Homo sapiens: one gene and its partners. The protein of the gene in region 3 interacts with the protein of the main gene of each other region in a biochemical or structural test. Each region holds a gene or a part of one and is shown on either strand. Other genes may lie near its edges.

What was found. Proteins that work in one complex are often made in the same cells at the same time.
Region 1: the proteins of INPP5D (region 3) and DAB2 form a complex in vitro, tested with the Homo sapiens proteins (one study listed by BioGRID).
Region 2: the proteins of INPP5D (region 3) and PTPN11 interact in a test that uses a peptide from one of them, tested with the Homo sapiens proteins (one study listed by BioGRID).

The regions. Positions count from the first base shown.
Region 1 is NC_000005.10:39,418,481-39,421,980, forward strand, and holds part of DAB2 (disabled homolog 2), read right to left. Parts: intron 1-3,500. UniProt on the Homo sapiens protein: Adapter protein that functions as a clathrin-associated sorting protein (CLASP) required for clathrin-mediated endocytosis of selected cargo proteins.
Region 2 is NC_000012.12:112,508,183-112,510,418, forward strand, and holds the end of PTPN11 (tyrosine-protein phosphatase non-receptor type 11), read left to right. Parts: 3' UTR 1-1,736; downstream 1,737-2,236. UniProt on the Homo sapiens protein: Acts downstream of various receptor and cytoplasmic protein tyrosine kinases to participate in the signal transduction from the cell surface to the nucleus. Positively regulates MAPK signal transduction pathway. Dephosphorylates GAB1, ARHGAP35 and EGFR.
Region 3 is NC_000002.12:233,171,842-233,175,341, reverse strand, and holds part of INPP5D (phosphatidylinositol 3,4,5-trisphosphate 5-phosphatase 1), read right to left. Parts: intron 1-3,500. UniProt on the Homo sapiens protein: Phosphatidylinositol (PtdIns) phosphatase that specifically hydrolyzes the 5-phosphate of phosphatidylinositol-3,4,5-trisphosphate (PtdIns(3,4,5)P3) to produce PtdIns(3,4)P2, thereby negatively regulating the PI3K (phosphoinositide 3-kinase) pathways.

The DNA.
Region 1 (3,500 bases), on a different chromosome or scaffold from region 3:
GAGGGCAGCTGTGTTCAATATGGACACAATTAGGGATGAAGTTATTCACTTTCCAGTTCTTTGGGTATGGATTAACTATAGACCTTAAGAGGACTTAACTGCCCTGCTCAGATGAGGTTTAAGTGGTACCTTAAAGTTAGTATTTGTGTGCCTCTACTGATTTATGAAGCATTGCCACATTCTCCTCCTTGATTATTCACATTTAATAGTTTAAAGATATATAGGAAAGACAGTCTTCTAATTTTCAGCCTGAATGTGTGCATCTCTAGAATTTAGCTTGCCTGATACTCAAAAACAATGAGAACAAGACCATTTAAAAAATATCAGCTTAGTTATTGCATTGAGAATTGCATTTCTAGGACAGGTAAATTTCAGAAGCAGCCGCAGGAGTTCTGAAGAGTTTTTAATTTTAAAATCGAGGCAACTCATTTTCCTGATGGAGAAATGAAGCTCAGGCCTTATATAGCTTGTCTTACATGGCAAAGCTAGGCTGTGGGCACAGTCATTTGCAGCTTAGAACCCAAGCTCTTAACCATGAATCTATGTTGGCTTTTCAAAATCAGAGTTCCAATTATATACTTGTACATCACACCCTTGTATTTTTCAGTTTGAGATGTGATCTCTGTTTGACATCAGGCATTCTTAGGACTGTTTTTGCAAGGTAAGTGAGACAACTAAGGGCCAGAGACATTGAATAGCATGCCCAAGAAATGGTAGCACTGCCATTCACATGTAAGTCTGTTTAACTCTCTATCCTATGTCCTTTGCCACACATGAGGAAGACTTTTGTTTTGATTTCTGCTCACTGGGAGATTTTCCATTGCTAACCTAGCATCAGACTTCACATAGTAGGTAATTGCTAAGTATTCAGATAAACGCCAAGGTGCAAATCATAAAGATTCATAATTGAATCCTGGCTCTACCACTTAATGATAACACCTTGGGCAAGATACTCATCATATTGGAGCCAATAAATAGAGATATCTTTTCTATTTCAAGTTACTTAAAGTGAAAGTCGAATGGGAGAAAGGAGCAGTGCTTCGTTAGCCATTAAACTTTACAAAAACTAAATGAAGTAGACTCATTTATGGAGAGGACTTCATCTGCACTTCTAGACATGGCATAAAAACAAAATAAAAAGTTTTATAGGTTAGAGAAAACCATCTGGTTCAAGGGTAATGATCTAGTTTACTGGAATCCTTTTTAAAAGAAGTAAGTGGGACAGTCTCCTAATAAATGAAGATTAATTATACTCTTTAAAAACCCCAGCAGAGGGGAAAAGATTTGGAAGTGAGGTGATAATATCAAACCAAAAGTATATTGGATTTCCTAGGATCAAGAAAGTCATACTTGGTATATGGGAAAAATATCCAAATCCCATGCTTTTTAATCTTTCTGCATCCTAAGATTCAGTTAAACTGCACTGTGTTTAAAGGCTTTTGCTTTATTATCTCCATGACTGAAGGAATTCAAATACTTTGTTATGATTTCCACTGAAGAAGTGAATCCTAAAACCACTGAATTATGAAAGTTACTCTTGGATCACGTGGTGGAGAGCTAGTTTAGATACAGCTGGATGGGCCCTACTTCCAGAGTTTGCAGTTCTGACAGGTCCCCAGCTGATGTTGATGCTGCTGGTTTGGGAATCAGCTCTGAGAACTATTGTCTTAGATGAGTTCCCTCAAGCTGTGAAATACACATCAAGCTAAATGTCCAATTTTGAAAGACTGAATTAATTTGTCAAATGCAAACTTGTGTATGGCAGCTCATCTTTCATATAAAGATCAAAGTCTTTTTGGGACTAACATTTTGCATCATATTGCTAGGTAGCAATAGGGTAGTTTTTTACCAAGAGACAACATTAAACCATATTTCCCTCATCCAGATTTCTTCTAGGTTGAAAGGTGCTTCAAATCCAGCATTCTAGGATTGTTACTTCCTATTTACCTGCTCCCTTTACTCTATGGTTACCTGAAAATCTAAGTGACAGCCCTCATACATTGTTTACCTTCAACGTAACACTCACTCAGCCTGCCCCATTCACTTAGAATTTTTACCAGTTGACTTAGTTAAAAATCACTTGCCCCTAGCTAGCTAGTACAAATGTAGTAGGGAAAACTTGCCAGGCTGCTTCTATATTGAGGTAGTAACTTTTAGGTTCCAGAAATTTCATAAGCTTTCATGTTTTGCTATCTAGATGATGCAAGAACTAGGAAGGTTAGAAAATTAAGTATTGGGATTAAAATAAGTTTGGAGGGGGTGATATAAGTAGAGAGGAGATTCTACTTCACTTAGTAACTTCCATTTTTAGACCAGGAAGCAATTTGTTCAGATTCTACTTCCCCTAGAGAGGCAGGCTTCCTTCCAGGGTAGAAGGATGCGGGAAGGGGAGTAACCATGGCAACCTGCCCAGCTATGTGGGCAAGGATAGTATGGGGCCTGCACACACTCGGAAGAATTTTTATTTCTAGCCTAGTCATTCAGTTTAATCCGGGTGGTCCCTCCCTTCCCACTTCCTTCTGTGACAATGCTGACTTCAGGGGGAAGGATTGCTCCTTCTCTGTCAGGAGTCTGAGAGGGTGTGGGGAGGACTTAATTGAGACCAGCGAGGTCAGCCTGACCAAACCAAAGTGCAGGCTTCCAGGACGAAAACAGAGAGTAACTCCCTGTCTGTTCTAGCATGAGCACAAGCAAACGCACTGGCTTTATTAAAATCAAGTGCTTGAATAATTAACCTTTTTCAAGTAGGTGAAGGGTATTCAATTTTCATGAAGAAATTTTCCATTTGCTTTCAGTTTTCACAAAGACACTTAATTCAGTTGTTCAGGGGGGAGTAATAACAAACAAACAAAACCTTCAAAATCAGATGGGAAAAAGTATTCCAAGTATATTAGATTAGCTGTCTTCCCAGCAATCCTGGGGTAGGTACTATTATTCTCCCCAGATAAGCAAGCTGAAGTACAGAGAGGTTATGGAATGTGCCCAAGGCCATGTAACCTGCAACCCTGTAGCTAAGATTTGAACCCAGGAAATGGTACTTCAGAAGGTAGTTCTCAACTACTATCCAATTGTGCCCTGTTGGAGGCAGCCAGTGTTGAATGTTAGCCCTCTGTGTCCGTACCAGTCATCATTTGTTCCCCTAACCAGGAATTTGCTTGTTTTCTGTCTTTAAGTAAAGACTGAGGAGTCTGCTTTCCTTCTGATTTCCACCAGTTAATCCAGTCAGGATATGCTGATATTATGAGTTGGGTCTCCTTTAAAGACACATATCTGGTGTTAAATCTGATTCATCTGGCCGGGTGTGGTGGGCTCATGCCTGTAATTCCAGCACTTTGGGAGGCCGAGGTGGGTGGATCACTTGAGGTCAGGAGTTCGAGACCAGCCTGGCCAACATGGTGAAACCCCGTCTCTACTACTACTACAAAAAAAAAAAAAAAATATTATCCAGGTATGGTGGCGGGTACCTCTAATCCCAACTAATCAGGAGACTGAGGTCACAG
Region 2 (2,236 bases), on a different chromosome or scaffold from region 3:
GTTTTGTTATAAGATATTGATTTCATTTAGATTTCCCTCCACGAGGTCAGCAAACTATCATGTTCTTATGTAAACTTAGGCCAAGGCCAGAGTTATCATAGTCCCTAGGTTGCTACGGCTTATCATGTGCTTGGTAAAAGGTGATCGCAGGTTCTCAGACGAGTTTACTTTACATGAGATGGAATCAGGCAGAGAGGCTGGGATGATGGAGAAAGCTCGAGGTGAAGTTTTAAAAAAAAAGTTGTGGAAAGGAAAGTTCCAAAGAGGTGGTTTCTGAGGAAGTCAGAGCGCCCAGGGCCAGAGCAGTCAGTAATGGGTGAATGAGGTTGTTTGGAAAGTCGGTGTGACAGACACATGGATGCCATCTACTTCTAGGTTGCTGGTGGGTATTAAATATGCACAATATTCCATAGCTCACTGAGGATTTTAAAATTATAAGCATAGGATTTTATATTTTGGGGTGAAAGAATTATCTGGCACATTAGGTATTGGAGTTTAAAAAAAAAGCCAAATTTCACAGTCTTAATAACTTTTTTTAAAAAAAACTAAAAGGCGCTTCATGTCCAGTGTGTGGCCCTTCTGAAACTTATGGTCATCTCTCCCACTGAAACCAAGGTCTTTTCAAATGTGGCTAAATGGGGATGAGGAGACACGGGTAGGACTTTCTTGGTGTGTGTGCATTCTTTAAAGAGCCAAGTTGCTTCGGGGAAACAGCCAGGAAAATGGTCAAGATTATTTTTAGAGGTTATTTTATTGGGGATTTTAAGAACTAATAACATCTTGAGTTATTTTTAATTCAGGGGGATGTGGAAAGGTTTGCAATTGTCAAGTGTTTTGTTGTAGCTTAGTATCCATAAGGGAAACTTAGACTATAGACATAACTACAAAGCCAGTGCAGCTTTTGTTTTCTGTATGTTGTTGGGGGATCAACTTTCACACATAGCAAGCACATGGCCTCCCTGATGTCAGGATGCCTTTGTTAGGATCTGTATTTGCCCTTAATTTTGTTGAAATCTTTTTTCCTTCTTCCTCTTGAAAAGTTCCAAAATATAGTTTATTGTATCTTTCATCACTAAAAATTTGTTCCTTTTTCACTATGGGCAGTTCACACAAGGCAAAAACTATTGAACAGTTGGTTTTAGTGTGTTGTATAACTTTGCTGTATATCAAACTAATTTTGACAAGTTTTCATCCTAAGCCTCAAATCATGTAATTAATAATTTGCCTGTTTATTTATGACCTAATTGTGATTCTTTTATTAATAAAAGCTAATGGGAAAAGGATCCCTGATTAAGCTGATGACTAGACCTACAATTAATTTTCCTGCAGTATATGAAGTATTGTACCAGAGTATTAAAAGATATGTAATATTTTATTGATAAATCTATCCTTTAAAAGGAATACGTTTTAGGATGTCATCATTTTGATGTGAATCATGTAAATGTTGATAATATGCTGTTTATTATACATTTAGTGTTTCAAGAGATTCACTTAATTGCCTTTTTGCCCACGTATATTATGTAGTCTATTTGCAACTGTTCTTAAAAAAATGACATTAAAAGAATAGTTTATGTAGAGAAACATTAGTGGATGTTAATTGTCTCCCCACCTATATTTATGGGTGTTAGCGCAACTGCTTTGCTAGTTGCAAAGCTGTATTATCAGAGTAAAAGTGTATTTGTAAACTGTATGGGAACTAAAAATTAGGAATAAAACCATTTTCTTATATGATGGCATTTGTCGTTTGCTTCATCAGAAATGTCCAGGAAAAAAATGGGATTATTGGTCACTCCACCTCTCACACTGGCAAAATACTGACATTTAGCAGCTCTTATCTAGAAGTGACTTGGAACATAGAATAAAGGCATGAGTTCCTGAAGAATTCATTGAGTGTTTCCTGTAGAAATAGCTTTAGGAGATAGGGAGTTCTATCTGGGAGAACATATGAGTAACTCAAGAGTAAAAAGTATAGTCTGTGTAAACTATAGAAGAAATGCTGGGCATGGTGGCGCGCCCCTGTAATCTCAGCTACTTGGAGGCTGAGACGGGAGGATTCCTTGAACCCAGGAGCCCAGGAGTTTTAGACCAGTCTGGGTAACATAGTGAGACCCTTTCTCACCTACTCTCACTGCATGCCCCCCAAAAATATATATGTGCGCGCACGCGCGCGCACACACACATACACACACACACACACACACACACACACAGAGGAAATTGTTAGAAAACACACAGA
Region 3 (3,500 bases):
TTCCATTGTTTATAAGTATCACATTTATCTACTCTACTGTTAATGGACATAGGGTTGTTTTCAGTTTTGAAGATTACAAACAAGGCTGCCATAAACATTCATTTTTTTTTTTTTTTTTTTTTTTGAGATGGAGTCTCGCCCTGTTGCTGAGGTTGGAGTGCAGTGGCATGGTCTCGGCTCACCACCATCTCCACCTCCCAGGTTCCAGTGATTCTCCTGCCTCAGCCTCCCGAGTAGCTGGGATTACAGGCGCCCATCAGCATGCCCGGCTAATTTTGTATAGAGACGGGTTTCGCGGTGTTGGCCAGACTGGTCTGGAACTCCTGACTTCAGGTGATTCACCTGCTTTGGCCTCCCAAAGCTCTGGGATTATAGGCGTGAGCCACCATGCCCGGCTAAACATTCTTATACCTATTTTTGGTGAACAAATATACAAATTTCTCTTGAACACACACCAAAGCGGAATTACTGAATCATAGAATAGGTGCATTTTTAGTTTTCATTGATTCTGCCTAACAGTTAGTTAAGTCCTTTTTTTTTTTTTTTTTTTGAGACAGGGTCTCACTCTGTTGCCCAGGCTGGAGTGCAGTGGGGCAATCTCAGCTCACTGCAACCTCTGTCTGCCGGATTCAAACAATTCTCCTGACTCAGCCTTCTGAGTAGCTGGGATCACAGGAGTGCGCCACCACACCTGGCTAATTTTTGTATTTTCAGTAGAGATGGGGTTTCGCCATGTTGGCCAGGCTGGTCTCAAACTCCTGGCCTCAAATGATTTACCTGCCTCAGCTCCCAAAGTGTTGGGAATACAGGCATGAGCCACTGTGCCCAGCCTAAACAGTTACTTCTTAACATTGCAGTTCTCGGCATCAGCTGCCTCTGAGAATTACCCGTGGGGCTCCACAAATAGTCATGTACCACAGTAATGGACTGCATATAGGACAGAGGTCCTACAAAATTATAATGGAGCTGGAAAATCCCCATCACGTAGTGCTGCTGTAGCTGTCATCACGTCACAGCGCAACACATTACTCACATGCTTCTGGGGATGCTGGTGCAAACCAGCCCACTGCACTGCCAGCTGTGTAAAAGCATAACAGTACAATTCTGTTCAGTACATAATATTTGATAATGATAAACAACTGTCACTCATTTCCGTGTTTACGATATTATTTATCATTAGAGTGTATTCCTACTTATAAGAAAATGTTAACTATAAAATAGCCTCAGGCAGGTCCTTCAGGAGGTAACCAGAAGAAGACATTGTCATCATAGGAGACGACAGCTCCATGTTATTGCCCCGAGGACCTTCCATGGGATGAGATGTGGAGGTGGGTGATAATGTCATTGACCATCCTGAGCCTGTTTCAGCCTAGGCTAATGTGTGCATTTATGGTTTTTGTTTTTGTTTTTTTTTTTGAGACGGAGCCTTGCTCCAGGCAGGAGTGCAGTGGCGCCATCTCGGTTCGCTGCAACCTCTGCTTCCAGGTTTCAAGCGATTCTCCTGTCTCAGTCTCCCAAGTAGCTGGGATTACAGGTGCACACCACTACGCCTAGCTAATTTTTGTATTTTTAGTAGAGACAAGAGTTTTGCCATGTTGGCCAGGCTGGTCTCGACCTCTTGACCTCAGGTGACTCACCCACCTCGGTCTCCCAAAATGCTGGGATTACAGGCATAAGCCACGGTGCCCAGCCTACGTCTTAATTTTCAACAAAAAAGTCAATGTAAATGAGAGTTTTGAAATTTTAAAACTTGAAAAAAAGCTTATAGATTAAGAATATAAAGAAATAAAATATTTCTGTACAGCTGTACAATGTGTTTGTATTTTAAGCTACATTTTATTACAAAAGCGTCAAAAATTAAATTGTTTATAAATAAAAAGCTTATAAATAAAAAATTACAGTAAGCTAAGGTTAGTTTATTATTGGAAAAAGAAAATTTAAAAAATAAATGTAGGGTAGCCTAAGTGTACAGTGTTTGTAAGGTCTACAGCAGTGCATAGTAATGTCCTAGGCCTTCGCACTCATTCACCACTCACTCACTGACTCACCCAGAGCAACTTCCAAGCCTGCAAGCTTCATTCATGGTAAGTGCCCTATACAGGTGTACCACCTTCTTTTTTTTTTTTTTTTTTTGAGACACAGTCTTGCTCTGTCACCCAGGCTGGCATGCAATGGCGCGATCTCGGCTCACTGCAACTTCCATCTCCCGGGTTCAAGCGATTCTCTTGCCTCAGCCTCCCGAGTAGCTGGGGTTACAGGCGTGTACCGCCATGCATGGCTAATTTTTGTATTTTTAGTAGAGACAAGGTTTCACCGTGTTGGCCAGGCTGGCCTTGAACTCCTAACCTCAAGTGATCCACCCACCTCGGCCTCCCAAAGTGCTGGGATTATAGGCATGAGCCGCTGCCCCCAGCCCATTTTTTTCTTTTTATACCATATTTTTACTGTACCTTTTTAATGTTTAGATACACAAAAACTTATTGTGTTACAGTTGCCCACAGTATTCAGTAAAGTAACATGCTATACGGGTTTGTAGCCTAGGATCAATAGGCCACACCATCTAACTGAAGTGGGCTTTGTGTATACACACTTCATGAGGTTCCCACAATGACGAAGTCACCTAATGACACGCTTCTCGGAACATATCCCCGTTGTTAAGCGACGCATCGCTATTTTCAGCTGCCTTCTGGGTATTTTCTCTGGGTTCTTCCACTGATGTCACACAATCAGTAAGTCTGAAAACAAGTTCTATTTTTTTCCCCTTCAAGCCAGCTCCGCCTTGTGATTTTCCAGTTTTTATCAATGGCAATCAGGTCTCGCAATATATCCTGATTTCCCCCTTTCTTTCATTTTCACTGTTTTTTCCCTGATTCGGCCCTAGCTGTTGCTCAGCTGAATGTGCACAACGGCCTCCTCACCGATGCCCCTGCCGCGTCCTCATCCTTTACCACAATGCCCACCACAATTCTGCACATGCCACTCTGATGCACCAGTGCCCGGCAGAGCTTGCAGTGGCCCCCTGTGGCCTGTCATCCTGGCATCTAGGACCGGCCACTCTCCCATCTCAGGCCCTCCTCTGCCTCAACTTAAACTCACATCAAAGCAAACCATCCTTCACCAGCCTGCACAGGGATCCCCAAGGACCTGCTCTGACAGTGCCTTTGGGCCAGGTGACCTTATCCACACAGCAGGCAGTGGACCCTGCGGAATGGGGTGTCCCATCCTGGGGGTCCCAGCCTCGTGGGTGACAGCAGTCCGGGATCTCCTCCTGTCCTCTCAGTTGTATTCTCTTCCTCTCCTGCTCTGTTCTAAAATCCACCCAGCGCTTGGCCTTCCTCTCCCACGTCCAGTTCTTCACTTTCTCCTGAGCCCAGATGGGGCCCAGAACTCTTTCAGATGACACTTTGAACTTGCGCTCCATTGCCCTAGGCTTCTAGTGGGCCTGGGTACCTCACCGTCCCAGCCATTTGACCCTTGAATCCTGCCAGGGGCTGGCTTCC